Homo sapiens: one gene and its partners. The protein of the gene in region 4 interacts with the protein of the main gene of each other region in a pairwise test. Each region holds a gene or a part of one and is shown on either strand. Other genes may lie near its edges. The genes, in order: SGTA, FAM20C, SGTB, SPP1, TMEM168, SLC39A6 and UBQLN4.

Region 1 (4,273 bases), on a different chromosome or scaffold from region 4:
TGCTATCCTAGAACTGAGAGCCCTGAAGACAGAAACCCACTCCCGCCCCCGAGATCCCAATTCAGGAGGGCGTGGGGGGAAGATGGGTATCAGCGTGTGTTTCCCTAAACAGTTTTATTGAGATATAATTTACATGCCACAAAGCTTACGCTTTAAAAATATAAGCCCGGGCGCGGTGGCTCATGCTTATAATCCCAGCACTTTGGGAGGCCGACGCAGGCGGATCGCAAGATCAGGAGACCAAGACCATCCTGGCCAACACAGTGAAACCTGTCTCTACTAGAAATACAAAAATTAGCCGGGCGTGGTGGTAGGCTTCTGTAGTCCCAGCTACTCAGAAGGCTGAGGCAGGAGAATTGCTTGAACCAGGGAGTCAGAGGTTGCAGTGAGCCGAGATCACGCCACTGCACTCCAGCCTGGGCGACAGAGCGAGACTCCATCTCAAAAAAGAAAAAAAAGAAATGGGATCACATGCTGTGCGTCCTTTTGTGTCTGGCCTCTCTCCCTGAGTGTGATGTCTTCACGGTGCATCTGCGCTGGGGCCTGGGTCAGAGCCTCACCCATCCACATTCCACCGTGTAGATGGGCCATGCTGTGCTGACCATTTAGCGTGGACAGGCATTTAAGCTGTTTTTGCTTCTTTTTATTGTTTTATTTTTTATTTTTTATTTTTTTTTGAGACGGAGTTTCACTCTTATCGCCCAGGCTGGAGTGCAGTGGCGCGATCTGGACTCACTGCAACCTCCGCCTCCCAGGTTCAAGCAACTCTCCTGCCTCAGCCTCCTGAGTAGTTGGGATTACAGGTGCCCACCACTGCACCTGGCTAATTTTTTTGCATTTTTAGTAGAGACGGGGTTTCACCATGTTGGCCCAGGCTAGGCTTGAACTCCTGACCTCAGGCAATCTGCCCGCCTCGGCCTCCCAAAGAGCTGGGACTGCAGGTGTGAGCCACCGCGCCCGGCCTCTTCTTGCTTTTTGACTCTTGTGAATACAGCTGCTGTGAACATGTGTCTGGGTTTTGGTGGACATGTGTCTCTCTTGGGCACATATCTAGTATCAGGGTGGAACCGGCGGGTCTCATGGAAGCTGTGCAACTTTTGGGGGCCACCAGCCAGTCTTCCACAGGGGCCGCTCCCGACAACCCCACCAGCCGTGCTGTGCCTGAAGGTCAAGTTTCTCTGCACCTCGCCAGTCCCCTCGCCAGTCCCCCTTCCGTCCCCGTCCCCACAAGCCAGCGTGCTGGTCATCAGGGCAATTCCCTCAGCTCCCTGGGCCCCAGGGACCAGCTGGCCTCTGCGAGGGTCCCACAGCCCCGGAGTCCAGGTAGGGCGAGGTGTCTGTGGGGATGGAGGTCCTCCCTTACCTTCGGTTTTGAGGCGCTCTGCCTCTGCTGAGTCCTCCTCGGAAGGCGGGGTTCGCGCGGGGCTCCTCAGGTCCTGCGGCATCTCCTGGACCCGGAGGCAAAGGCGGCCCGCTGTCCTCTCCTCCCAACCTGGCACCCTCCGGCCTTAGCTTCCCTCGGGACGCCAGAGAGGGCCACCAAGTTCCGAAGGACCCGGGGGCTCTGCAGGGGACTCCTGGCCCCCCATCATGTGGCCCTGGGCGAGTGACCACAGCGCTATGTGTCTCAGGACCCGCCGATAGGGGGAGGAGGGCCAAGTGCTCCTGCAGCCACGTCCCCAGCCCAGGAGAGGATGCAGGCAGAGTGCTGGGGGACGATGAGAGCGGGGCTCCTGGGGTCCCCAGGGCTGCCTGCTGTTGCTGTTCTTATTTTGGGGGCAGTGGCTGGGGAAGCATCGAGGCTCACCTTGCCCGTGGCAGCCGCTTCAAATATCTCCGGCAGAGTCTGAGGGAGCGCAAGGTCACTGTCTTCTACCGTCACCCCAAACGCAGTCTCCAGGCACTGGATGGCGACTGAAGCGGGGACAGAGGCGGTCCCATTCATTGCACGCAGCCCCGAGGTTACGTTTTTGGGTCTAGAGGGCGGGGTTGGTGCTCATGCTTCCCCAGGTGTGTTCATTCCCAAGGACCCCAGAACGCAGGGGCCGCCGCCTGTGCTCTGGGCTGGGACAGTGGACCCTCTTCCTTCCCGAAAAGAAAAGCCAGACAGAGACGCCCCGTGCCCCTGAGAGCAGCAGAGGCCGTGGGCAGAGTGGAGCCCAGGTGGTGACCTCAGGCCTCTGTGGGGTCCCAATGCTGGGGCTGCCCGGCTGCGGCGTGGTGGGGGCTTGGCCCCACCTGGAGGGCCACGTCAGGGGTGAGGTGCCCCGGATGCTGTTGCACCTCCAAGGGCGCCTGGCCTGAGTAAGGAGCTTGAAGCCAGCCCCCAGTAGAAGGCCTGTATGACTGGGTCTGTACCAGGGCAGGACCATTGAGAGCAGGACAAGAAACAGCCACAGGGCCCCTCTCTCTGCTGGCCCACCTGACAGACTCAGCACCCAGGGGGCCCTCCCACCGAGCCAGACAACACTAGCCCTGGCCGCCTCCTCGTGTGGACCCAGGGTCCTAACCCAGGTCAGAAGTGGGGGTCAGCCACTTCCTGCCCAGCACTGTGTCAAGGACCCCGGGCACATCCCTACAGCTGTCACTGGGTGTCCATGCTACAGAGGCCTGGCAGGCCCAGGACACAGGTGAGCGAGGCATAGGTGGGGAAGGAGGACCTAGAGCAGAACCTGCAGCCACACGAGGGTGCCTCCCCGAGCCCTCCTTTCCCTCCGAGCCCCGGATCCAGGTGTCGCAGAAGCGCAAGCAAGACCAGCCAGGAGACCAAGGCACCTGGGGAGCGGACAGGCCATGCAGGATGCCAACGAGTCTGGGACTCTGGGGCGGGGCCAGCACTAGGAGAGCTTTTTCCCCGTGACCGATGGTGACACACACACACTGGGTGGTGAGAACATTCCAGAACACACCTTGGTGGAAGATGGGGAGATGGAAAAAAGCCACTGGAAGGCAGCTCAGCCTGAAGGCATCAAGCAGTGGTGGCGCCACGCAGTGGCAGGCGGGAGGGCTCAGCTCGGCCCTGGCTCCCACGGCCGGGGGCTGTGTGGCCCTGGGCAGACCCCTGCCCTCTCTGGGCTTAGCTTCCACCCCCAAAAAGCCAGGCGGGGGACCAGGCATCTACACACCAGGTGTCTACACGAGGCGACTGTGCTGGCCGCTGCCCGGGGAGAGGGGGAAGTGGCAGGCACCCACCTACCTTCCAAGCTCTCCTGAGCATCGGACGAGAGGCCCCCGTGCCGGAGCTGGTCATGCAGGAACTGGATGATGGCGTAGGCCAGGCGCTTCTTGTTGTCCATCTTGAGCCCAGAAGAGGTGATACCTGGGGGTGCAGGAAAAACCCCCATCAGGCCCCCTCACACTCCCCACTCCAGGCACCCCAGGCCTGCCCCTAACTAGCTGGGCCTCACTTTAAGGGTGCTGGCTGATCTCAGCTCCAGGACAGCCCAGGTAGAAAGGCCTTAATACGCCCATTTCACAGATGATGACCTGAGGCCCAGAGCTCACCAATCCGGCTATGCACACAGCCAGAAAGTGTGAGGCCAGCAGGCAAGCAGGGCCTGCCCTAGAGAACCCGCGTGCTCCCAGGGCCTCCTGAGCACTCCCAGGGTGGTACTGAGGCGCCACGGAGGTCCCCTCCGCCCCTGCTTCTGGCATGAGGTGGGTGGGGGCCAGGGATGCTGCCCAGCACCCTGCAGTGCCCAGGACAGCTCCACTCCAGAGAACGATCCAGCCCCAATGTCCACAGTGCTGAGAGGGAGAGACCTTGTCCTCAGCCAGAGCCACTGCCCCTTTCCTCAATTTACCTCTTTTGTGGCATGTCAGCAAGCATTTCTTAGGTACCCAACGGGGCCAGGTGTGCCTGCCCTGGTATCACTGTTTCACAGGACTTGCAGAGGACTCCCCCCAGGGACTTCTTGGGGACCCGTCTTGTTCCCCCTGGGAGGCCTACCTACCTCATTCCACCTCAGACCCCCCTCTAGTTCCCCCTCGGACACCCTCCTGTGCCCCCCTCGGACACCCGCCTGGTTCCCCCACCTGACACCCTCCTGGTTCCCCCAGCGGACACCCTCCTGGTTCCCCCAGCGGACACCAGCCTGGTTCCCCCACCGGACACCCTCCTGGTTCCCCCAGCGGACACCAGCCTGGTTCCCCCACCGGACACCCGCCTGGTTCCCCCCTCGGACACCCGCCTAGTTCCCCCCTCGGACACCCGCCTGGTTCCCCCCTCGGACACCCGCCTGTGCCCCCCTCGGACACCCGCCTGTGCCCCCCT
Region 2 (4,273 bases), on a different chromosome or scaffold from region 4:
AGCGTTTGCCCTGCAAGCCTGCGTCCCCAGCCATGAAACGGGGGAAAGGGGGTCTGAACCCCCGCAGAAGGTGGCAGTGGCAGAGACCGGCAGCTGCGTGCGGGAGCAGGGTCCCTGTGTCTCAGCTGGCGTCTGCCCTGGCCTCGAGCTCTCTCTGTAACTGGGGTGGCAGGACGGACACAGAGTGGAGGCCCGAGGGGGCTCGAGCTGGATGGGCCTGGGGTGGTGGGCGGGTGAGGTCTGCGCCTCCAGGCCGCCGAGTGAGGGTGTGGGTTGAATTCAGGGCTGTGGTTGAATTCGGGGCCTTTTCTCTCCCATGTGATGGCCGGGGTGGGGTGGGGAAGGCTGTGGCCTCCTCTGTCTCCTGCGCAGTAGGGAGGAGGGTGGAGCTGGAGCCGGCTCCGGCAGGGGCTGTACCTGCAGCACTGCTGTAGCGGCACCAGGATGGAGAGCTCGTCGTGCGAATACTTCCCAAACCTTCCAGAAGAAAAGCAGAATTGTCAAGGGCCCCTGTACAAGGTTCCTAACAGGCTGCTGGGCTGGGAGCTGGGCCATGGGTCCACCTGCCTGTACCCGACACCCCAGGCAGTGGGTCCACCCAGCCCATCTCCAGCACCCCGGGCAGTGGGTCCATCCCACCCATCTCCAGCACCCCAGGCAGTGGGTCCATCCCACCCATCTCCAGCACCCCAGGCAGTGGGTCCACCCCACCCATCTCCAGCATCCCGGGCAGTGGGTCCACCCTGCCCATCTCCAGCACCTCAGGCAGTGGGTCCACCCTGCCCATCTCCAGCACCCCGGGCAGTGGGTCCATCCCACCCATCTCCAGCACCCCAGGCAGTGGGTCCACCCTGCCTATCTCCAGCACCTCAGGCAGTGGGTCCACCCCACCCATCTCCAGCACCCCAGTCAGTGGGTCCACCCTGCCTATCTCCAGCACCTCAGGCAGTGGGTCCACCCTGCCTATCTCCAGCACCCCAGTCAGTGGGTCCACCCCGCCTATCTCCAACACCCCGGGCAGTGGGTCCACCCAGCCCCATCTCCAGCACCCCAGGCAGTGGGTCCACACTGCCTATCTCCAGCACCCGGGCAGTGGGTCCACCCAGCCCCATCTCCAGCACCCCAGGCAGTGGGTCCACACTGCCTATCTCCAGCACCTCAGGCAGTGGGTCCACCCCGGGCATCTCCAGCACCCCAGGCAGTGTGTCCACCCAGCCCATCTCCAGCATCCTGGGCAGTGGGTCCACCCAGCCCCATCTCCAGCACCCCAGGCAGTGGGTCCACCCTGCCCATCTCCAGCACCCCGGGCAGTGGGTCCACCCAGCCCATCTCCAGCACCCCGGGCAGTGGGTCCACCCTGCCCATCTCCAGCACCCCAGGCAGTGGGTCCACCCCGCCTGTCCCCAGCCCTGTATGTGGGGTCCTGGCCTCTGGCCTGGGGAAGGGTCCTGGGCAGCCGAGTTGAGATGGCTCCAGGGAGCGTCAGCCCACAGTTTAGCTATTGAAGTGCCCAAAGTCCATCTCTCTGAGGCCTCCGAGCCTGGGAATGGACGTCCTCCTGCCCGAGTTACTCGCCTCCATGCTTTGCTTATTAGGGGTCACCCTCCCTGGTAACCAGGGTCTCACAGCGCCGCCCAAGACCCCCCGTGGCAGGCCAGCAGCGGCCGCAGAGGCCGCCTATCCCCCGCTGGCTGGCTCCAGGTACCGCGTGCAGGCAGAGGCCCATCTATTCTGCACGGTCCTGCTCTTCCTACCAGCAGCCTCTCCTGGCCTCCGTTTCCCAGGTAACACCAGCTCTGCCGGGACTTGGTCTGCAGCATTCCTGTGCCTCGGAGGTCCCACTCCCGGGGCGGCCCTCCCTCCTGGTTGGGGCCTGGGGCCGCCCTCTGCATCTGGCTCTGAGATGGGCCTTTGCGACATTCCCATCCCTCCACTGGAGGGTCTGCTCCCCCCGTCCCCAGGGTCTCAGGTGGGCTGCAGGTAGCTGGGAGGTGGCCGGCCCTTCCCTGGGTGTGCAGGGGCGAGGACAGGCTCACCCTCTTCCATTGTCTAAGTGGATGATGAACGTTTCATTCCCAAACTTCTCAAAAGTCTCGTAGTGGTGACGGTCCATGTTTCCTGCGGAGAGAGGCAGAAAGTGTCACAGCTCGTGGGGAGCCGGGCCACGTAGCTCAGAGGCCTCTGTGCTCTGCAGAGCGGCGTCTCCTCCTGCCAGCGTGACCTCTAAGCAATCTGGCCCCTTCACAGGCCACAGGACCGCAGCCGGGCCGTGCCACGGAGTGTGCCCTGCAGAGCCCTGCGTGCATCCGCTCCACGCAAGGCGAGTGACACGGGGACCCCGTGCCCCTGCGGGACGTACCCATGAGGAAGTCGAAGATCGTCATGTCCATGACGTCCAGGATGCGGTGGCTGCTGTCGTAGGGCGGTGTCTGCTTCACCTCCTCGCAGTAGTCAGGGTCCACCTCCCACCTGCGGGGAGCCAGCGTGAGACGGGGGGCCCAGGCCAGATTCTGGGGAGCCCGGCGCGTGCCATGAGGAGCAGAAGAGAAACACTGCGGCAGGGACCTTGGCGTCTGCAGATGGACCCGCCCGGGCTGCGGCGCTGAGGCTGCATTAGCGGGAGCACGGGTGTGGGAGGGGACGGAGCCGCTCTGCCCTGCCTCGGGGTGACCCCACCTGGAGCTGCCTTCACCTCTGGGCCCCGTGTTTTTTGCAGAGTCTCTGTGGGGAAACAGGACCTGGACTACACACTCACGAGGACAACGTGGGGCGGAAAGAACAGGGGCCGTTTCTCCCGCAGGAGTGAGGAGAGGGACGGGGCGAGAGCAGAGCTCAAACGCTGAGAGGCCCCGATTCGAGGGACCTGGTGGGCAGGCCGGCCCGGGTCAGGGAAGCACATGGAAATACTGGAGTAAGGACGCCCTCTGCCACCGTCTCATCAGGAAGCGGTCATCTCACACAGGCCAGCATCGCACAGCAGGCTCTGCACCCATCTCTGCCACCCCCGTGGGCGCCGACCCTCCCATGCCCGCCCAGGCCCAGCTCCCTCTGCCGTAGGGTGGCCGGACGCCAGCCCCCCGGCCCCGCACTCACTCGGCCTTCTTGCGCTTGTGGTAGGAACGCCGCCAAGGGTTCCGCCAGGTCTTCCTCTTGGCCAGGGACAGGTCGGGCAGGAAGGCCGCCAGCGAGCCCTCGATCTGGTCTGGCTTCCCGCACAGGGCGTGCTCCGTGGAGCAGTAGTAGGAACACTCGCCGTAGAAGCAGATGTTGTTGGCTGGGGAGGGACAGGCTGCGGGTTACCAGGGCCGCACAGGGCTGCGTCCTCACCTGTGGTCTCACGGCCCCCAAGGCCGGGCCGGGCTCTGCCTGGTGCTTCTCATGGGCAGGACTCACCCACAGTTCCCCATCAATCCCAGCAAACACCTCCACCCCACGGTACAGAAAAATGAACCCACAGAGCTGACGTCCCGAGGCCACACAGCTCCCCAGAGGCAGAGCCCGGCCTGAACCCTCGAAAATCAGGGGCTGGTCTATGGAAACCCTAGGGCCAACATTTAGTCTTTTAAAAAATGCATTCATATTGTCAAGAAAGTGAAGATACAATCCACAGAATGGTAGAAAACGTTTGCAAACCGCACATCTGAGGATCTAGCATTTAGAGTGTATGAAGAACTCTCATCACTCAATCACAAAAAGACAAAAAAAACTAATAAATGGGCAGAGGGCTTGAACAGCTGATTCTCCAAAGACGACCCTGATGGCCGACAAGCATGAGAAGAGACGGGCGCCATCGTGAGTCACCGGGGAGATGCAAATCAAAGCCACGGTGAGGCACCATCTCCTGTCTGCTGGGATGGCTTCCATCAAAAGAGCAGCTGCCGGCTGGGACGGGGGAACCGCCACCTCTGTGCGCTGCTGGCGGGGGGTGCACACGGCACAGCCACGGCGGAAACGGTCTGCAGCCCCCAACTGATTAAACACAGTGTTTCCACGTGACCCAGGAACTCCCCTCCCATGTAAACCCCTAAGAGAAGAGAAAACATTTCTATACAAAAACTCAGACACGAATGCTCACAGCAGCACCGCTCACCACAGCCGAAAAAGAGAGAATCCACCCAAATGTCCATCAAGAGAGGAGTGGACACGCCAGGTGAACATGGTCCATCCGTGCGATGACACGAAACGAAATGAAACAAGAAGAGGAATGAAGCCCTCACTGAACCCGAGAACCCTGTGCTCCGCGAAGGAGGCCAGACAGAGGAGGCCACACGTC
Region 3 (4,273 bases), on a different chromosome or scaffold from region 4:
TCTCCACAACTTTGCAACTATTACAATCCCCTTCATTTTCTACAACATTAGATCTTCCATCTCTAATAGATGATAATGGTTGGCATGTGATCAGGTCATAAAAAGTCATTCACTGAGCCAGGTGCAGTGGCTAACACCTGTAATCCCAGCATTTTGGGAGGCCAAGGTGGGAGAAATGCTTGAGCCCAGGAGTTCAAGACCAGCCTGGGCAACATAGCAAGACCCCATCTCTATAAAAATACAAAAATTATCCAGGAGTGGTGGGGTACACCTGTAGTCCCAGCTACTTGGGAGGCTGAGGTGAGAAGATTGCTTGAGTCTGGGAAGTCGAGGCTGTGGTGAGCCGTGATCGTGTCACTGCACTCCAGCCTGAGTGACAGAGTGAGACCCTGTCTCAAAAAAAAGAAAAAAAATCATTAGTTGGACCCATCCCTTTACCCAGCGTTCCCCTCTAGCCACCATCCCACTTCTCAGTTCCTCGTTCTCTGCCCCTGATGGTTATCTGTACTTGCTGTTTCATCTTTGTCATCTCTTTTTTTCTTTTTTTTTTTTTGAGACAGAGTCTCGCTCTGTCACCCAGGCTGCAGTGCAGTGGCGCGATCTCAGCTTACTGCAAGCTTTGCCTCCTGGGTTCACGCCATTCTCCTGTCTCAGCCTCCCGAGTAGCTGGGACTACAGGCACCCGCCACCATGCCCAGCTAATTTTTTGTATTTTTAGTAGAGACGGGGTTTCACTGCGTTAGCCAGGATGGTCTCGATCTCCTGACCTCACGATCCACCCACCTCGGCCTCCCAAAGTGCTGGGATTACAGGCCACTATTAACTTATTGTCAAAATACATCACTCTCTAGGATCCTGACACTACACTTGCCCTGTTTCCCCTTCCACTTTACTGGATGCTCTTTTCCAGTCTCCCTTGCTTGTTCTTCCTCTCTACCATCTCTAAACAATGCTGTATTTTAGGGTTGCATCCTCTGCTGCTGCTGTTTCTTTGTCTTCTCTCTGCTCAGTTTATCCTGCTCCATGCTTTTAAAATTCATCTACAGTTGATACTCATTATTTGCAGATTCTGTATTTATGAATTTGCCTACTTGCTAAATTAATTTGTAATCCCCAAATCAATATTTACACTGCTTCTGTGGTCATTCATGTACATGCACAATTAGTGAAAATGTGTCTTCTGATGCTCTCGATCTCAACTGAGGGTGAATAAGGTGATGCTCTATCTTTTTGTTTCAGCTCTCATGCTGAAACAGTCTATTTAGTGCTACATTTTTTTTTGTATTTTTGTGCCTTTTATTTGTGATTTTGCTGTTTACAGTGGCCCCCAACTATAGGCTGAAGTGTTATCTAGTATTCCTAAGTGCAAGAGGACTGTAATGTGCCTTATGGAGAAAATATATTTATGAGACAAGCTTCATTCAGGCATGAGTTAGTGCCGTTGGCTATGAGTTCAATGCTAATGAATAAAATATATATATTAAATAAAGTTTCTTTAATCAGAAACACACATAAAAACAAGATTATATATTGATCAGTTGATGAAAATATGACTATTTACAACAGTTGCAGGAACCTAACTCTGTATTTTCCCTAGGAACAATTGTTCAGTATTTGCTAATTCATTGTTCATGGTGACTTTATAGAACAGGACTACTGTGAATAAGAATCAACTATATATATTATCGGATCTAATTTATATGTTTGAACTCCGTACTCATATATTCTACTACTCTTCAACTCTATGTTTGGATGTTTAATAGGTATTTAAACTTAACATGTCCCAGACAGAACTCATGTTCCCTTCCAAAATCTTTCCAATCTCAATACATTGTACAATTAGTTATCTATCCCATGCACAGGTCAGAAGCCTAAGAGTCATCCTTCATTGTTATTACGCCTGACATAAGTACTGATACTCTGTCATCAAGTCCTGTCAATTCTAGTTTCTGTATATATCTTGAATCCAAGTGTTGATCGCTATCTTACATATAGCCCCAGTCCAAACTACATCTCTTACCTAAGCTACTGCAATAGCTTCCTAACCGATCTCCCTGCCTCCATTCTACCCTTCTGCCCATGTAGATCCTCTACGTAGAAGCCAGAGTGAGCTTTCAAAAGCACAAATTGTATCATGTGACTCCATTGCAACCAGAATAAAGTTCAAACTCCAAGCAATGGTCCTCTATCATCTGGCACCCAACTGTTCTCTGACATCATCTCTCCATGCTTTGTTTTCTGTGTTCCCTCCTCATCAGCCCTTGTCCTGTTCCTTAAGAATACCAAGCTTGCATCTTTCTTGGGACCTTTCTGTTTACTGCTATTTCCACTACAATGCTCCTCCCTCATTTTCATGACTGCTTTCTTTACATCACTCAGATCTTTCCAATGTGGCTACTTTTTGAGCAGCTCTCCTATTCATTCCTTTAATATTGCCCTTTTTATTTGCATGCTTGTTGCCTGTCTTCCCCAGGTAGAATGAAATTTTCTTAAAGACAGAAAACTTTATCTTTTTTTTTTTTTGAGATGGAATTTCGCTCTTGTTTTCCAGGCTGGAGTGCAATGGCACAATCTCGGCCCACTGCAACCTCCGCCTCCTGGATTCAAGCAATTCTCATGCCTCAGCCTTCCTAGTAGCTGGGATTACAGGCGTCTGCCACCATGCTTGGCTAATTTTTGTATTTTTAGTAGAGACAGGGCTTCACCATGTTGGCCAGACTGGTCTCAGACTCCTGACCTCAAGTGATCCACCCACCCTGGCCTCCCAAAGTGCTGCTGGGATTAGAGACGTGGGCCACTGCGCCCAGCCAGGATCCTCAGTATCTTTAGATATTATTTTAATAATATTCTTATACATCATAGAGTTTCAGTAAATAGTTACTGACTTGACTCTTGATTAACTGGGGACTCTGATAAAGTATCATACATGGTTGACTGGTAGAAAATGAATTAGGTTCCGATAAAGAGAAAAAGAGAAAAGAAAACAGTAATTTGTTTAAAACAAACCTAAAACAAACAGAAACCCCTAATACTATGTCACCATATATACAGTTATTGTTTAGTTCTATAATAATTTTTCAATAAGTAAATTATAACTAGGTAAATATGAACATTAAAATTTAATACCTCTTTGACTTGTGCCTGGTATAATTTGTTATTTGAATTGTAAAGGATGCTAATTTTATCTACCTCTTTTGATCAGGAATAGTTATCTAATAACTACAGCCTGTTTTCTTAATGGAAAATTGATATTAATTGTTCCTCTGTTAGGAAGAAGAAAGCATGTAGGCCATTTTGAAGCACAAATACAGTTTAGAGTCCTTAAAAATGGTGTTAGCATCATGGATTTATGTGACCACATGATTGTCAACTCACATCTTTTGGAACTTAGTCTAGGCATTTATAAAGCAAATTATTTTACATATTAAGCTTAAAAATGGTAGAGTAAGTAAGATAATCTCTAAGCATTAAATTCATGATCTATAGGACAACCAGGTTATCAGCAAGCAGAATGGAGTGAGTTCAGATATATAGAATCTTAAGTTGGAGGGAATTTTGCTCCCGTGAGCCATAGTACAGTGAATAAATTAAGTGTAATCTGGATTAGAACTGAATACCAAGACAGACAGACGTTTGACGATGTTTGTGATGTCCTGATGTTCTTTAATCATATATCTGATATTCTTATATTCTATTCCCTTCAGGCTGGCCCTCACTGCCTTGAATAAATTTGAAGAAGCAGTTACAAGTTATCAAAAGGCATTAGATCTTGACCCTGAAAATGATTCCTATAAGTCAAATCTGAAAATAGCAGAACAGAAGTTAAGAGAGGTATCCAGTCCTGTAAGTTGTTAATGCCAAATGAGTGAAGTATTTTCTGTCATTCACAATTTATTGTAATTGTAGATACTGGACTGATTCTCAGATATAATTGTTTTACAGACAGGAACTGGACTGAGCTTTGACATGGCTAGCTTGATAAATAATCCAGCCTTCATTAGTATGGTGAGTATACTTTCTTTTCTGCCTCTACTGGCTATGTTTTCCATAGACTATGTAGCTATGCAATTTTTTTTAGAAACAAGTGAGTTTTTGTGGTGGTGGTTGTAGTGGAGTATTGATATAAGGCTATAGCAGGGTTCTGTTTTTTTATTTCCAACTTTTATTTCAAGTGCAGGGGTAAATGTGCAGGATGTGCAGGTTTGTTACATAGGTAAAACGTCTGCCATGGTAGTTTGCTGCACAGATCCTCCCATTACCCAGGTATTAAGCC
Region 4 (3,372 bases):
ATTTCTCTTTTAACACAGGGATTAATAACATTCTGAAGAACATTTCTTACTTTGCAACAGAAATTATTTTTATAGATATTTTCAAGCCAAATATGTGAGTATAATCTTCATGTCAATAACATTGTTTTTCCTTATACATATTAAACATTATTTACTAAATTCAATGATGTAATAGATACAGATACATAATTATGAGACTGGTTTTTTTATTTGAAATGAGATTTATCAAAAGAGAAGAGTATCCATATTTTAATGTGTGTACTAAAATCTATAACCACTTTCCTATTAACATGGATAATTGAAAGGTGACTCTGTTATGCATGTGTGTATAAACTGCAGCTCAAAACTGCCCATTGAATTAAACAACTAATGTCTATCAAATTTCAAATTGACAAATATATTGGGTAATTTATCTAACTTGCTTTAATATTCTTAGTATATTCAAATTGAATCTTAAGGAAAATAAATTTACTCTTTGCTTAGCAAATATATGAATGATCCTAATAAAAAGAATAGTTGTCAAATAAACTATTTTATTAGGAAAGAAAACTTTCCTAAAGGCAAAATCTTAGCTTTGATATGCATTAATTAGATGCTTATTAGATATTAGATATCTACAAAATACCTTAAATAAATTGCAAGCAGATTAATGTTTCAAATAACAGGCATTAATAAACATCTTCTGTAATGCTAAACTTATCCGAGGAAACCTAGTATTTCTGATATTTAGTAAATACATGTTTTATTTATGAGCAAGTTTTAGACTGCCAATTAGCTGGAAAACTTGCTAATGAAATTTCATCAGAAGAGAATCCAGGCAATGCCTTCTTTCATCTCTTCAAGGCATGATGGGCCTCTGATTGAAAATGAGAACTTACCTCTTGTTTAAAGTCATTGGTTTCTTCAGAGGACACAGCATTCTGAAGAAGGAATGGCACGTGTTAGTGCGCATCACACATGCCTAGCTTTTTTATTCAAAAGTTAACCTTTTTAATCCAAAGCAGTTTTTATTTTTCAGCCTCATCTGTGGATGGCTTAACACAGAGAGAAGCCAACATGGCAGATCAGTCAATGTCCTAAGCACATGTTTGCCAGCAGGCAGGCAGGATTCATCTGAGCAGCCCAAATGGCCTGAGTGTGGCTATCTTTCATCACTGTAGTTTAATTATGAGAAGTTTAAAAATACCTGTGGGGCTAGGAGATTCTGCTTCTGAGATGGGTCAGGGTTTAGCCATGTGGCCACAGCATCTGGGTATTTGTTGTAAAGCTACAAAAAAGTTGCATGTTTATCATTATTAAAAAAAGAAATGTAGGGATGAATGGAAAAAACAACCATTCTTCACTAGTCTTGATGGAAGCATATAGTCACCCGGACCCTTAGGTACCTTTTTGTAATTTTTTTTTTTTTGCAGATTCATTTAACAAACTCTTATGTAGCACTTACTGTGGGCTAGGCACTCTTTCAAATTGCTTTACAAATATGAACTCATTTGATCCTTTCATTCCCCTATGAGATAGGTATCATTATTATTCCCACCTTACAGATCAGAAAACTCAGCCACAGTGCAGTTAAGTGGTAGGAAATGGCAGAGCCAGGCAGGGTTCAAACGCAGGCAAACTAGCTCTTAACACCGAACTTCACACTGTGCTTTCTTTTTGTATGTTTGCTGGCTGAATTTTCCTCTCAGATAAAGCACATCTAAACCAGAAGTGACCTTAATTACTGTTAATCTTCATTGTGTCCAGTCCATGGAACAAGAAGGAACTCTCTAAGACTGTGCTAATTCAGTATCCTCTAACCACATGGAGCTATTTAAATTTAAGTTAATTAAAATGAAATGGCTAGGCACGGTGGCTCACCCCTGTAATCCCAGCACTTTGGGAGGCCGAGGCAGGCGGATCACGAGGTCAGGAGATCGAGAACATCCTGGCTAACACAGTGAAACCCCGTTTCTACTAAAAAAAATAAAAATAAAAAAAAATAGCCGGGCGTGGTGGCAGGCACCTGTACCCCCAGCTACTGGGGAGGCTGAGGCAAGAGAATGGCGTGAACCCAGGAGGCAGAGCTTGCAGTGAGCCAAGATTGCGCCACTGCACTCCAGCCTGGGTGACAGAGCAAGACTCCATCTCAAAAAAAAAAAAAAAAAAAAAGAAGATAAAAATTCAGTTCCTCAGTTGCACTAGCCCACATTTTGAGTGCTCAATAGCCATATGTATCTTATCAGCCAATGTAGAAATATAATATTAAAATCATTGCACAAAAGTTCTATTGCTGTAAGGTGCCAAAGATGTAAATGAAATGGATTTTTCTTTAGCCAAGTTATTTATCTGGAAAATACTGATAATATGCTACTGCAAAGGAGTGGAAATTGCTCTGAGTAAGTATCATCTGATCTGCTGAATCATCCAGGGCCAATCATTACATTTCCCTGTCACTGAGAATGAGAACTCTGGGGGTTGCACAGAGTTCCTTCTGCAGCCACCTAAGGGGTGGATGAGTAGAGAGAGAACCAGTCAGAAGTACTTGGAGTTTCTCTCATGGCTGGCTCTAACCAGAGGAGCTTAGTATTGGGCTTCTCCGAAAGGTTTTGCTGAAAGAAGGGGTTCCTTGCTTTAAGAAGATGAAAAAACAGCCGGGCGCAGTGGCTCACGCCTGTAATCCCAGCACTTTGGGAGGCCAAGGAGGGTGGATCACGAGGTCAGGAGATGGAGACCATCCTGGCTAACACGGTGAAACCCCGTCTCTACTAAAAATACAAAAAATTATCCGGGCGTGGTGGCGGGCGCCTGTAGTCCCAGCTACTCAGGAGAATGGGGTGAACCTGGGAGGCGGAGCTTGCAGTGAGCCGAGATCACACCACTGCACTCCAGCCTGGGCGACGGAGCGAGACTCCGTCTCAAAAAAAAAAAAAAAAAAAAAAAAAGAAGGCGGAAAAACAGTGAGACCAGATGAGTTCAGAGTTTTTCTCTTCACTTTTTCATATCTATCTATCTATTCTCATGACACATGTAATACAGGCTCAGAGAGAATGGATGTATAAGTTACATTTATAATTTTTAAAAACTAATATGAAGAAAATAAAGGTAAGCAAAATGAATAGACTAAAAACCACCCAGTAATCCTAACACTCACAGATAACCAGTGTGTATTTTCAGGCATATATCCTTAGAGACTTCCCCAATTTTTTACTAGCTTTAAGTTTCTGGGATTCTAGAAGGCTGAGCCTTGAGCTCTTCACGTATTTCTTAAATTGTTATAGCTCCACGTGCCTTCTAAAATGCATCTTTGCCATATTTTCGTTTATTAAAAAGACGCTAATTCTTGCCTCAAATAGTATGACCTCTATCTTCTCTGGAGATGTTAATTTTTCT
Region 5 (4,273 bases), on a different chromosome or scaffold from region 4:
TTATATAAATGCTCTTTAGATATCAACGAGACCTAAAGCAGCATTAAAGCTTTCTAAACAATTTCTCTTGTTTTGCTCTGCTTTCTCCTATGAATAGGTTCTATGCTACATTTGGCTTTTGGCCCAGATTCAAAGTACTTACATTTATCTAAGCTAATATCCATCTGATGCATTTTAAGTAATTGAGACTGCTTTTTAAAGGTTTTATTTGTAATAAACTGCTTTATAAATTATCTACATTTTTTCCATTTATTTCTGTCTCTCCTGTAATTACCATAATTGTTTTCTATCCTCAAGCAGAGGCAAAAATATTAGGTTCCATATCATGAAACTCCATAAATATAAGAAGACTACATATTCTAACTACTGTGAGTGAAGGTATGGGATAAAGGGCAAATATAGATTCTCTTTCCCACAGCGATATTAATACTGGGCCTGCTATCAACTTGCTAACCCAAGTAAAATCCAGTTGTGATGTTTCCTATTTCAAAGTTTGCTGAAAAAACAACAAAAAACAAAACAAAAAATCCCCAACTATTAATAAATTAGCAGAGCTTAAAGCTCTTTGTCACTTAATTTGGAATAGATGAAAGTATTTTCCTCAGAGCAGAGATATTCAATACTATTTGTGAGGCAGAATCAGCCCTTGAGGACTACGTCTAAAGCAGGCCAGGGCATGAACTAACTGAAAAGCGGGCTTTTCTGGGCCTGGTTCAACCTGACTACCCACAAGTATGCGAGATGCCTCAGGCCATGCATGACAGTATGCAGTTGCTGAATTATAAGATAAAATCTACCTTTCTCAGGGAAGGGAGATCAGTATGCTTTCTCTCTCTTTTTTTTAAACTTCTTATAATAAGCCTCAAAGTTACACAAGAACAAATCTTAGCTAACAGAGGAATTCTGTAACGGTCAATTTACTGGTAGCATACTTCAAAAAAATTATAAAGACATCATTCTAGAATGTAACTGCTAAACATTTACCTAAAATACAACTCTATTTTAGTGTTCTTAAAGTCTTCAAAAATTATTCCTAACAGTGAATGAAAATTTAGAAAAACTGCGAGAGATATATATATGTGTGTGTGTGTTTATCTTAGTGTTTTTACTTTTCTTAGAAAAATAAAAAGCTGATATAAGTATTAGTAAATGAACATCTAGAATTGATTTCCATAGCTATCTTTAAGAAATACTTAATGAATTTTAAATTACTTAAGAAAAATGCAAACTTTTTGAAAAGTGTTTCTATTAAGTAATAAATCCTTCATATAAACACACATAAAAAGCTTACTTCTAAAATTACTCTAACACTTTAAAATAACTAGGGATATATGCATGGCCACCAAAAATTAGCCCTGTTTTTTCCATTTGATCTGGGTAGAGTTTATTATCATAAGGATTATAGTAAGTTTCAGCAATCTCTGCTTTTAGATCTAAAATTCTATTTCTGTAAAGGCTATTTTAATTGACTAAAAGCTTTCTCTTGTGCTCTGAGTTGGAATACACAGAACGTTATACTTTACCTGAAACTGAAGTAGCCATAAAGGTTAAAAAGATGCTTTCTACGTTGTAATTAAAAAGTTATAGGTCAAGTAAATGATTTTATAAACTATATTCAATTAGTTTTAATGTTCAGTGCATCTTTTAGTCTTGTACATTCTAATGTTTTGAAATGGGTGACCCATGTTAACAAAAATATCCACTTAACCAGAACATGCCATTCCTTTATCATCATGGCTTTCACCCTTGGAGGCAACATGGTAGAGTGGGGGGAAAAATACACTTTAGGAATCAGGCAGATCTGGTCTTAAATCATGGTTCTATCACATAGTGGTATGACCACAGATAAGTTACATAACAACTTTCAATTTCCATTTCATCGTTTGAAAAATGAAGATAACAGAAGTGATGGTATCTATCTCAAAGGATTTCACATAAAGATTAACAATGTGTGTAAGGTACTAAGTACAGTAAGCTGATGCTTAAAATGTACCCAATAAATATTAGCTTGTCTTTCTACTAGAAGGCCACTGAGTTATTCAATATTTATTTGCAAAAAAGAAAAATTTCAAAAAAATATTTCTCCTTATGATAAAAACCTCAGTTACAAATCTGGCATGAAATCAATGAGATCATGCTAGTTTAAAATCATCTCTACCTTAACCTTTTTGTTTGTCTCTTTCTGGAGTTCTTATATTGGCAACTCTGCCTCTGTCCTTCCATACTACTTCTATTTATCTTTTTCTTTATCCTGAATGTTTCCACTTTATTTATGACTATTTTATTATTTATATATTCTTGGTTTAAAACATCTACACTTTTATGGAAAAAAAAATCATGTAATTAAATCTAAAATAACTATTTCTAATCTAAAATAAGAAAATTACCTTTTTTAATGATTTATTCAATGATTTCATCTATCTATCAGCTACTTAAGGATCCTCTACTATGTATTGGGCTCTGTTATAGGTCCTAAACAAGTAACAGTTGATAAAACAAAGCCCTTGACTTTCTCTCTATTAATAGTTGGAAAGACTGACAAATTTATATATGATATAAAGAGATCTCATTTCTCTCTTGGCAATAACTAAGAAGTTTTCTATTTCCCATAATGCATGCAAACCAAAGTTATTTTATGTTTTTTCAAATGCAAAAAAATCCCTACAGAATTTTGTACCTTAGAATAAAACTCAATGGTCATTTACAATTACCCCCTTATTTTACAGATGAGAAAATTGAAGCCAACAGAAGTTAACTAACTTGCCTAAAATAACACAGCTGTGGCAAATTAGGACCAGAACCAAGGTCTCCTGACCTAAGTGCTACTCCCACCATACTACATGATCTGCTGTTTAAAATTTTGGTGAGCTTTATAACATAAATAAAACTACAGATGTGAAGGACTACTGAAATCTGCATCCATAACATTTAAAAACTTAAAGATACTAGTCAAAGGAGTTTATCAGCTTCTGAAAAATATGTTTAGCAATTCTGAAAATATTTTAAGGGAAACTGTAAGTCTCAAAGCATTTTTTTCCTTCTAATCACTATAAGACGTAATTCCCAATCTTATCATTAGAGATTAAATTAGGCTAAACAGGTATGCTAGAGCAAAGAAAAACAAATTAGAGTCATATGCATAGTTCAGTAAACTAAGAATCCTGGAAATTTAACGACTGTGTGTGAAGTACAGATTTCTACATATACATGTGTATCTTTACAATAGTGAAACTGCCAAAGGTGAGTTTACCTGCTAGAGCCCACTCTCCTGTACCATGGGTGTGCCCACTGTAATACAAAATATACGTATCATGTCTGGGTCCATCCACTGTCCGAAGTTCGAGGAAAGCTTTTAGTTTGGAATGCAGAGTATCAAATGACAGTCCACTTGTGGAATAGTCACATCCATAGGTCTCAATCATATGATATGCAAAAAATCTTTGGATAGCATTGAGCATGCCAGTAGACCTCAAATTTAACTCCTGTACATGTTCTGGGGGAAGCAGTGTTGGCTGACCATCAGGACTGAAGTAGGAGAAAAAACAAGAAGTACTCATTCTATATCACATTCTCATCTGTCATTTGTAACTGATTATCTAAGAATCAGTTATAATATAGTTGCTGCTAAGTGGCAGGATTTTTGTAAAAAATCACCCTTTCTAAAATTCCTATAGTACTGAGAATTAAGCTTAGAAAATCAAAACCTGGTTTCTAAATATTATATTTACTATCATTAAAACAATAATCAAATTAAAAGCTGGGATAATGTCTCCAAATGTAGATAGTATTACTCTTTGTTCCTTATTCGTATTTTCTTACATGACAAATATTGGACAAGGTTTTTTAAAAGCAGGATTACACTGTTTCAAGAACATCTGGGTGGGGACTATTAAAAAAACTTCTTTAAAAATATTATAACACAAAATAAAAAAGCAATATTTTAATTATATATTTACTTCTGTATTGAAAAATAGTCAATAAAATTGTGTTCAAATTTTATTAACTTAAGGTACATAAATAATAGAAGAAATTATCTATTAATAGGCATTTAAAAAGTTATTAAAATTTAGGTCCATTGCTTTATACCACTGGACACTAGTTGAAGACTTAGATTTACTCCTAGAACAAATATAAAATGGTACTCTAGTACAAAGATGATAAAGCAAGTCTTATAACTAGCAAAATACCATTAATATTGAGAAAGAAAAAATCATCATTCCTATCCAGAAAAGGGATTTCTATCGGGATTTTTGAAAACGTTAGATTTTGCTTC
Region 6 (4,273 bases), on a different chromosome or scaffold from region 4:
ATAGCCAGGCATGGTGGCGGGTGCCTGTAGTCCCAGTTACTCGGGAGGCTGAGGCAGGAGAATGGCGTGAACCCGGGAGGCGGAGCTTGCAGTGAGCTGGGATCGCACCACTGCACTCCAGCCTGGGTGACAGAGTGAGACTCCGTCTCAAAAAAAAAAAAAAAATTAAAACAACAACAACAACAACAACAACAACAACAACCATATATCAAAACAGTGTGGTCTAGGCACAGTGGCTCATGCCTGCTGTCGTTGGGTGCTGAGGGAAGGCCTCTAAAGGAGATACCTGATTTGAGACCTGCACAACAAGAGGAGGAATGCATGTAATGGTCTCAGAGAACGGTATTCCAAGTACAAGGAATAGTGAGTGCATGGCCCGGAGACAAGCCTTATGTGCTCCCAGCGTGAAAAGAGGGCCAGTGGGGCTGGAGCACAGTGAACAATGCGGGAGAGTGGTGGGCTCAGCGGGACCTTGAAGATCATGGCAAGGAGCTGGGTTGAAAACATGAATCTTAACTCAGTCTGTCCGACAAGATATGCCAAGCAAACAGCCAAGTTTCAGGAAAAACAGGAGAAACATGGTAGATACAACCTTAGGCAAGTGATCAAAATTACCACCACCAATAAGTGACAAAGAATCATATCAGGTGGCACACCATGTGACAGAAAAGGACAAGTACCATTTTGCGGTATTCCTGCCAAAACTGATCAACCTAATCATGCAAAAATACTAAACAAACCCAAAAGTAGAGGCAACTAAATGCAATATTTGATCCTGAATTGTACTCTGGAACAATATTTTGGTGGGGGTTGGGGGAGTGTTGGCATAAAAAGCACTATTAAGGCATTTGGAAGAATAACGTCTACAGAGAATGGCACTGTATCAGTATAAATTTCCTGATTTAATAATTAAACTCTGGTTATATGAGAGAATGTCCATTTTCCTAGGAAACATAAGTATTTAGGAGTAAAGAAACATCATGTCTATAACTTACTCTCAAATGGTTTAGAAAAAAAGTGTGTGTAGCTGGCCCTTTAGTCACTAAAAAATTAAAGAAAAAGGTGTGTGTGTAGACAGAGCTAGAGAAAGACAGTGTGGTAAAATAACTGGGGAATATGAGTGAATGGGATACAGGAATTCTTTGTACGATTCTTAAACTTTTCTATGAATATGAATTTACTTCAAAATAAAAAGTTACAGAAAAAATAAATGTAAATATACAAAAACAATGTACTCACTGGCAATATTTTACAAAGTATGAGATACTGCAAAAACCAAAACCAAGGGACATGGTCCCATTTCTTCCAGATAGTCAAGTTGCCTGCAAATCATACAGCAATGAACTCCCTCCAGCCCTAAAATTTATGCATAAGAACTTACGATCATCTGTATCTACTTTCTCCTCATTTGTTGAAAGTTGAGATTCATACTTGGACAACTGCTTCTTAATCTCCACATCATCATCATTTTCAGGTTTCTTCTGATTCTAAAATAGTGAGGGAAAACAATACTTTAAAACAGTAATTTGTTTATATGTACAGCTTTCAATCAATAACCAGGTAAGCAAAACACACAGAATGCCCCCACAGTCATCTACTCTTAAGTATGTTCCCACACTAGCAGCACACTATCTCCTGGGAACTTGTCAGAAATGCATACTCCCGGCCAGGCGCGGCGGCTCACGCCTGTAATCGCAGCACTTTGGGAGGCCAAGGCAGGCAGATCATGAGGTCAGGAGTTCGAGACCAGCCTGGCCAATACGGTGAAACTCCATCTCTACTAAAAATACAAAAATTAGCCGGGTGTGGTGGCATGCGCCTGTATTCCCAGCTACTTGGGAAGCTGAGGCACAAGAATTGCTTGAACTCGGGAGGTGGAGGTTGCAGTGAGCCAAGATCGTGCCACTGCACTCCAGCCTGGGTGACAAAGGGAGACACTGTCTCAAAAAACAACAAAAAAATCCAGCTAGGGGCATTTCCTTCAGGCATCTAGTGATCTGGTAACCACCTGCCTGGCTTCTTCCATGCCTCTTCTGCACACTGAAACCCCAAACTTCCCATACTTTTTATAACCTAAAACTATAGTTTTTTAGTTATTAAAACACTTTTCTTTAATAAAACACCATTAACATGATTTCTCTTTTAAAACAAGCCTCTATTAACCCTGAATTCATCACTGGGCTTTTTAACCATCCCAAATACCATACCAGAGATATTGTCCCTAAGTCCAAGCAGCCTTTATGTTGTGTAAAGGTCACTGTTTGAACAATGGTGTCTGTGTATCATCTACTTATACAGAACATTTAAAATAAAAGTTATCACATAAATAACAGATTTCTTATTTGCAGTACCTTTGAATATGATGATCACCACCATACCTAAGATTTCATTCAAGCTCTAATACCATATCAAGTGTCTATACATTCTTAGATTTTAAGAGCTTTTAAAGGCAAACACGGCCGGGCATGGTGGCGAACGCCTGTAATCCCAGCACTTTGGGAGGCCGAGGTGGGCGGATCACAAGGTCAGGAGATCGAGACCATCCTGGCTAACATGGTGAAACCCCGTCTCTACTAAAAATACAAAAAATTAGCCGGGCGTGTTGGCGGGTGCCTGTAGTCCCAGCTACCCAGGAGGCTGAGGCAGGAGAATGGCGTGAATCTGGGAGGCGGAGCTTGCAGTGAGCAGAGATCGCGCCACTGCACTCCAGCCGGGGCGACAGAGTGAGACTCCATCTCAAAAAAAAAAAAAAAGGCAAACACACACACAAATCTTTACACTTATCCTGAATATAATGCCTCAATCAGAGAAAGTACTTAAATATTTGTAAAAATAAATGAACTCAGGGTATCTTAAATCATTTATGCTGGTGCTTTATTTCTCATTGGGCAATTGTTCTAGAAAGTAGTTTAACCAATTCTTTCATTCCATAAGTATTAAGGGCCCACAGTGTTCCCTATGCTAAATGCTGGGAGCAGAACATAAAATAAGCCCCACAGTCTCTGTTCTCATGGAGCTTACTATCCACAGGGAGAGGGTTTTACACAGGTAATGATTATATACTTCTTTGACTATAATTTTTGACACATTTTACAATAGAAAAGAACAGAGTGCTATTAAGAATGTATAATAACATGACCTCAATAATTTCCAGATGGCCACTGAAAAAATATAACTTATACCAAGACCTAAAGATAGGTAGGAATTTGGTGGGGAAGGTTGGGGAGGCAGCATTCCAGGCAGGGAGTAGCACCAGGAAGGGGCCAGCACTGTTCTGGAACTCAAAGAAGTACAAGGTGGCCGGGGCCTACTAGGTCAGAGAGGGTGGCCAGAGATGAGGCTGAGGCAACTAAAGGAGATCAGACAATAGAACTCTGTTGAGAATAGTGGGCTTTGTCCAAAAACTAATGGAGCCACTGGAGGAAGGATTTTAAGTAGTGGTGTGCAACCTCATCATATTTTCATTTAAACAAATCACTGCCCGCTCTGTGAAATCTAGATTGGGAAAAGGAGGAAAACAAAATAACGTGGACAGGCTCCTATTAGGAGGCAGTAACTGTCACTCAGGTGGGAAGTAACCATGGCCTGGACTAGAATGACAGCAAGAAAGATGGAGAGGAATGGAGAGACCATGGACATATTTATTAAAACTTGGTTGGATGTGGGGATGAGGGGGATATCAGAGATGATTCTCTAGTTTTCGGCATGAACAATAACCTTCACTAGCAGAAGGTGAACCTTAAGCAGCAGAAGGCCTATAACCTAAAAATATGATATACAGAATCTCCCAGGGATGCAGGATGGATCTCTTAAGAAAAATCCTAAGTAAAATGCCCTGTTACGAGCTTGAAGAACTCCCCATACTCACAATATAATGAGTAGTAGTTTTCTTTTTGAGAGAATTAGATTAAAAATTATTAAGTAAGTAACTTTAATATCTGGATGCCTTTAACAAAAGATAAACTCAGCATATTCCAAAAAGGGAAGAGAACATGTAACATTTGCAAAACTCCTATGGGAAGTCTTCATCTAGAAATTATGCTTATTTGCTGTTTCATGCTCCTTAAACATTCAATATTTACTACCATCGATTATGTACCAGACACTATTCTACACATTGGAGACAGAGCTGTAAACAAGACAGAGAGATCCTGGCTTTTAAGAGCTTACATTCTAGTAGATACTATTTTAAAGCAGAGTGCATCAAACTACTCTGACTATGACCCACATTAATATATGTAATGTAAAATAGTAATATATAATATTATTGTTG
Region 7 (3,500 bases), on a different chromosome or scaffold from region 4:
AACCATAATTCTCAGACAGAGCTAAGGGGTTGGAGCCCATGCCTCTAAAGTCACCCTGCTGTTTGGAAAGGATGAGGGAGAAGACGGAAGGGAGGACAAGCTGCAGAGGGTAAGGATTGACAGAAGAACCGAATGCTGACATCGAGGGAGGGGAGAGGCAGGAGGCATGGGCCGAGGGATTAGGAGAGCTGGGAGCCCAGCAGTCTCTCGATAGCTGCGTTGATGTCCCCTCCTGTGGCAATCAGGGCCTGCAGGTTAGCCTCACGATTGATGAAGCCCATGGAGTTGAGCTGCTCCAGCTGCTGCTGAAATCTCACTTCTGGCGTCTGCACCTGGAGGGGACAGGCCTTGTGAAGTGGGCACAGGACCAATCTTGGGGGCCCTATTTGAATTAAGGGTTTCTAAGACCAGCAGGTCTTCTCTAATATCCTCAGAGTCAATCAGGAGGGCAGGGAAGATGAGCTGCAAATGGGGGCCCAGGAGCCTAGGTCCCAAGTCCTAAATAACTGTGTAATGGCCGGGTACGGTGGCTCACGCCTGTAATCCCAGCACTTTAGGAGGCTGAGGCGGGCGGATCACGAGGTCAGAAGATCGAGACCATCCTGGCTAACACGGCGAAACCCCATCTCTACTAAAAATACAAAAAATTCGCTGGGTGTGGTGGTGGGCGCCCTGTAGTCCCAGCTACTCAGGAGGCTGAGGCAGGAGAATGGCGTGAATCCGGGAGGCGGAGCTTGCAGTGAGGCGAGATCGCGCCACTGCACTCCAGCCTGGGCAACAGAGCGAGACTCTGTCTCAAAAAACAAAAACAAAAAAACAAACAAACAAAACTGTGTAATAATATGGCAGGCGGATATCTTTTTTAGATTTTCAAGATAACTGATAGGCCTAGATCAGCATATATTCCTCATTACTTTCCATAAACACTGGAGATGTTAACAGGCACTCCAAAAGCCAAATGTTCTATGGTCAAATAAGATGCATACTAAGCATGACCTCCAAGGCCCCTCCTAATAGTCATCACACGTACAGCCATATGAAAGGCTAGAGAAGGGTCCCAGTTAAGAAGCTATTTAATTTTGTTTCACTGATCAACAGTTATTTATAAAAGAGAAGTATTTCCTTTTTTTTTGAGACAGGGTCTTGCACCCAGGCTGGAATATAGTGGCAGAATCATAGCTCACTGCAGCCTCTATCTCCTGGGCTCAGGTGATCCTTCTCTCTGAGCCTCCTGAGTAGCTGGGGCTACAGGTGTGTACCACCTTGCCCAGCCAATTAAAAAAAAATTTTTTTTTGGCTGGGCATAGTGGCTCATGCCTATAATCCCAGCACTTTGGGAGGCCAAGATGGGCAGTTTGCCTGAGGTCAGGAGTTCAAGACCAGGCTGGCCAACATGGCGAAACCCCATGTCTACTAAAAACACAAAAAATTACCCAGGTGTGGTGGCGCATGCCTGTAGTCCCAACTACTTGGGAGGCTGAGGCAGAAGAATCACTTGAATCCGGGAGGCGGAGGTGCAGTGAGCTGAAATTGCGCCACTGCACTCCAGCCTGGAAGACAGAGTACATCTTAAAAAAACAAAAGTGCGTGGTGGCTCATGCCTGTAATCCCAGCACTTTGGGAGGCTGAGGCAGGTGGATCACTTGAGGTCAGGAGTTCGAGACCAGACTGGCCAACATGGCGATACCCCGAGACTAAAGATACAAAACTTAGTTGGGCATGGTGACAGGAGCCTGTAGTCTCAGCTACTCAGGAGGCTGAGGCAGGAGAATCGCTTGAACCCGGGAGGCGGAGGTTGCAGTGAGCCGAGACTGTGCCATAACACTCCAGCATGGGGGACAGAGTGAGACTCCATCTCAAAAAAATAAAAATAAAATAAAAAATAAAGAAAAAAATTTTTTTAGCAGAGAAAGGGTCTTGCTATGTTGCCCAGGCTGGTCTCAAGTGATCCTCCTGCCTTGGCCTCTCTAACTGCTGGGATTACAGGCATGAGCCACTGCACTAGGTCTTCTTCTTTTTTTTTTTTTTTTGAGACGGAGTCTCGCTCTGTCACCCAGGCTGGATGCAGTGGCATGATCTGCCTCCCGGGTTGAAGCGATTCTCTTGCCTCAGCCTCCTGAATAGCTGGGATTACAGGTGCATGCCACCAAGCCCGGCTAATTTTTGTATTTTTAGTAGAGACGTGGTTTCACCATGTTGGCCAGGTGGGTTTTGAACTCCTGGCCTCAAGTGATACACCCGCCTTGGCCTCCCAAAATGTTGGGATTACAGGCATGAGCCACCATGCCCAGCTTGCACTAAGACTTTTTTTAAAAGAAAAAAATTTTTACAGACTGGGTCTCCCCGCGTTGCCCAGGCTGGTCTCGAACTCCTGGCCTCAAGCAGTCCCCTGCCTTGGCCTCCCAAAGCACTGGGATTACAGGCATGAGCCACACTCCTGGCCTGGCTTTTTTTTTTTTTTTTTTTTTTGAGATGGAGTTTCACTCTTGTTGCCCAGGCTGGAGTAAAATGGCACGATCTCAGCTCACTACAACCTCTGCCTCCCAGGTTCAAGTGACTCTCCTGCCTCAACCTCTCGAGTAGCTGGGATGATAGGCATGCGCCACGACACCCAGCTAATTTTGTATTTTTAGTAGAGACGGGGTTTCTCCACGTTGGTCAGGCTGGTCTTGAACTCCTGACCTCAGGTGATCTGCCTGCCTCGGCCTCCCAAATTGCTGGGATTACAGAAGTGAGCCACCGCCTGGCTAGCTTGGCTTTTCATTCTTGTCATTCCTCTAATTATCTCCTGTAAATGTTTGCCCAAGGGGTATTTGGAAAGCACAAGCCTTGATTATGAACAAAAGACTCTTATAGTGGCCGGGTGCGGTGGCTGACGCCAGTAATCCCAGCACTTTGGGAGACCGAGGCAGGTGGATCACGAGGTCAGGCGATCGAGACCATCCTGGCTAACATGGTGAAACCCCGTCTCTACTAAAAATACAAAAAATTAGCCGGGCGTGGTGGTGGGCGCCTTTAGTCCCAGCTACTCGGGAGGCTGAGGCAGGAGAATGGCCTAAACCCAGGAGGCGGAGCTTGCAGTGAGCTGAGATCCGGCCACTGCACTCCAGCCTGGGCGACAGAGCGAGACTCCGTCTCAAAAAAAAAAAAAAAAAAAAAAAAGACTCTTATAGCTAGAAAGAGTCCAGCAAGCACCGTCCACCTGGTGTTGAAAGGAACAATGTTCGATCCAGAGAAAAGACAGGACTTGCCTGGGGTCACAGAGAAAGTCAGTCACTAAGGCCCCCTGACTTGCAGTATAAAAGCCCTTTCTGGACGGGTGTGGTGGCTCACGCCTATAATCCCAGCACTTTGGGAGCCCGAGGCAGGCAGATCACCTAAGGTCAGGAGTTCGAGACCAGCCTGGACAACATGGTGAAACCCCATCTCTACTAACAATACAAAAAAATTAGCCGGGTGTGGTGGCGCGTGCCTGTAATCCCAGCTACTCGGGAGGTTGA

The links.
Region 1: the proteins of SPP1 (region 4) and SGTA interact in binary tests that used the Homo sapiens proteins (3 or more experiments, as listed by UniProt).
Region 2: the proteins of SPP1 (region 4) and FAM20C interact in binary tests that used the Homo sapiens proteins (3 or more experiments, as listed by UniProt).
Region 3: the proteins of SPP1 (region 4) and SGTB interact in binary tests that used the Homo sapiens proteins (3 or more experiments, as listed by UniProt).
Region 5: the proteins of SPP1 (region 4) and TMEM168 interact in a two-hybrid assay, tested with the Homo sapiens proteins (one study listed by BioGRID).
Region 6: the proteins of SPP1 (region 4) and SLC39A6 interact in a two-hybrid assay, tested with the Homo sapiens proteins (one study listed by BioGRID).
Region 7: the proteins of SPP1 (region 4) and UBQLN4 interact in a two-hybrid assay, tested with the Homo sapiens proteins (2 studies listed by BioGRID and IntAct).

The regions. Positions count from the first base shown.
Region 1 is NC_000019.10:2,765,773-2,770,045, forward strand, and holds part of SGTA (small glutamine-rich tetratricopeptide repeat-containing protein alpha), read right to left. Parts: intron 3,320-4,273; 5' UTR 3,297-3,319; coding exon 3,197-3,296; intron 1,915-3,196; coding exon 1,808-1,914; intron 1,449-1,807; coding exon 1,364-1,448; intron 1-1,363. UniProt on the Homo sapiens protein: Co-chaperone that binds misfolded and hydrophobic patches-containing client proteins in the cytosol. Mediates their targeting to the endoplasmic reticulum but also regulates their sorting to the proteasome when targeting fails.
Region 2 is NC_000007.14:254,850-259,122, reverse strand, and holds part of FAM20C (extracellular serine/threonine protein kinase FAM20C precursor), read right to left. Parts: intron 3,275-4,273; coding exon 3,094-3,274; intron 2,470-3,093; coding exon 2,360-2,469; intron 2,119-2,359; coding exon 2,037-2,118; intron 478-2,036; coding exon 418-477; intron 1-417. UniProt on the Homo sapiens protein: Golgi serine/threonine protein kinase that phosphorylates secretory pathway proteins within Ser-x-Glu/pSer motifs and plays a key role in biomineralization of bones and teeth.
Region 3 is NC_000005.10:65,680,226-65,684,498, reverse strand, and holds part of SGTB (small glutamine-rich tetratricopeptide repeat-containing protein beta), read left to right. Parts: intron 1-3,704; coding exon 3,705-3,843; intron 3,844-3,942; coding exon 3,943-4,005; intron 4,006-4,273. UniProt on the Homo sapiens protein: Co-chaperone that binds directly to HSC70 and HSP70 and regulates their ATPase activity.
Region 4 is NC_000004.12:87,977,941-87,981,312, reverse strand, and holds part of SPP1 (osteopontin isoform OPN-a precursor), read right to left. Parts: intron 1,268-3,372; coding exon 1,187-1,267; intron 921-1,186; coding exon 879-920; intron 1-878. UniProt on the Homo sapiens protein: Major non-collagenous bone protein that binds tightly to hydroxyapatite. Appears to form an integral part of the mineralized matrix. Probably important to cell-matrix interaction.
Region 5 is NC_000007.14:112,769,531-112,773,803, forward strand, and holds part of TMEM168 (transmembrane protein 168), read right to left. Parts: intron 3,526-4,273; coding exon 3,251-3,525; intron 1-3,250. UniProt on the Homo sapiens protein: Plays a key role in maintaining the cardiac electrical stability by modulating cell surface expression of SCN5A. May play a role in the modulation of anxiety behavior by regulating GABAergic neuronal system in the nucleus accumbens.
Region 6 is NC_000018.10:36,115,293-36,119,565, forward strand, and holds part of SLC39A6 (zinc transporter ZIP6 isoform 1 precursor), read right to left. Parts: intron 1,488-4,273; coding exon 1,382-1,487; intron 1-1,381. UniProt on the Homo sapiens protein: Zinc-influx transporter which plays a role in zinc homeostasis and in the induction of epithelial-to-mesenchymal transition (EMT).
Region 7 is NC_000001.11:156,036,799-156,040,298, forward strand, and holds part of UBQLN4 (ubiquilin-4), read right to left. Parts: intron 333-3,500; coding exon 180-332; 3' UTR 1-179. UniProt on the Homo sapiens protein: Regulator of protein degradation that mediates the proteasomal targeting of misfolded, mislocalized or accumulated proteins.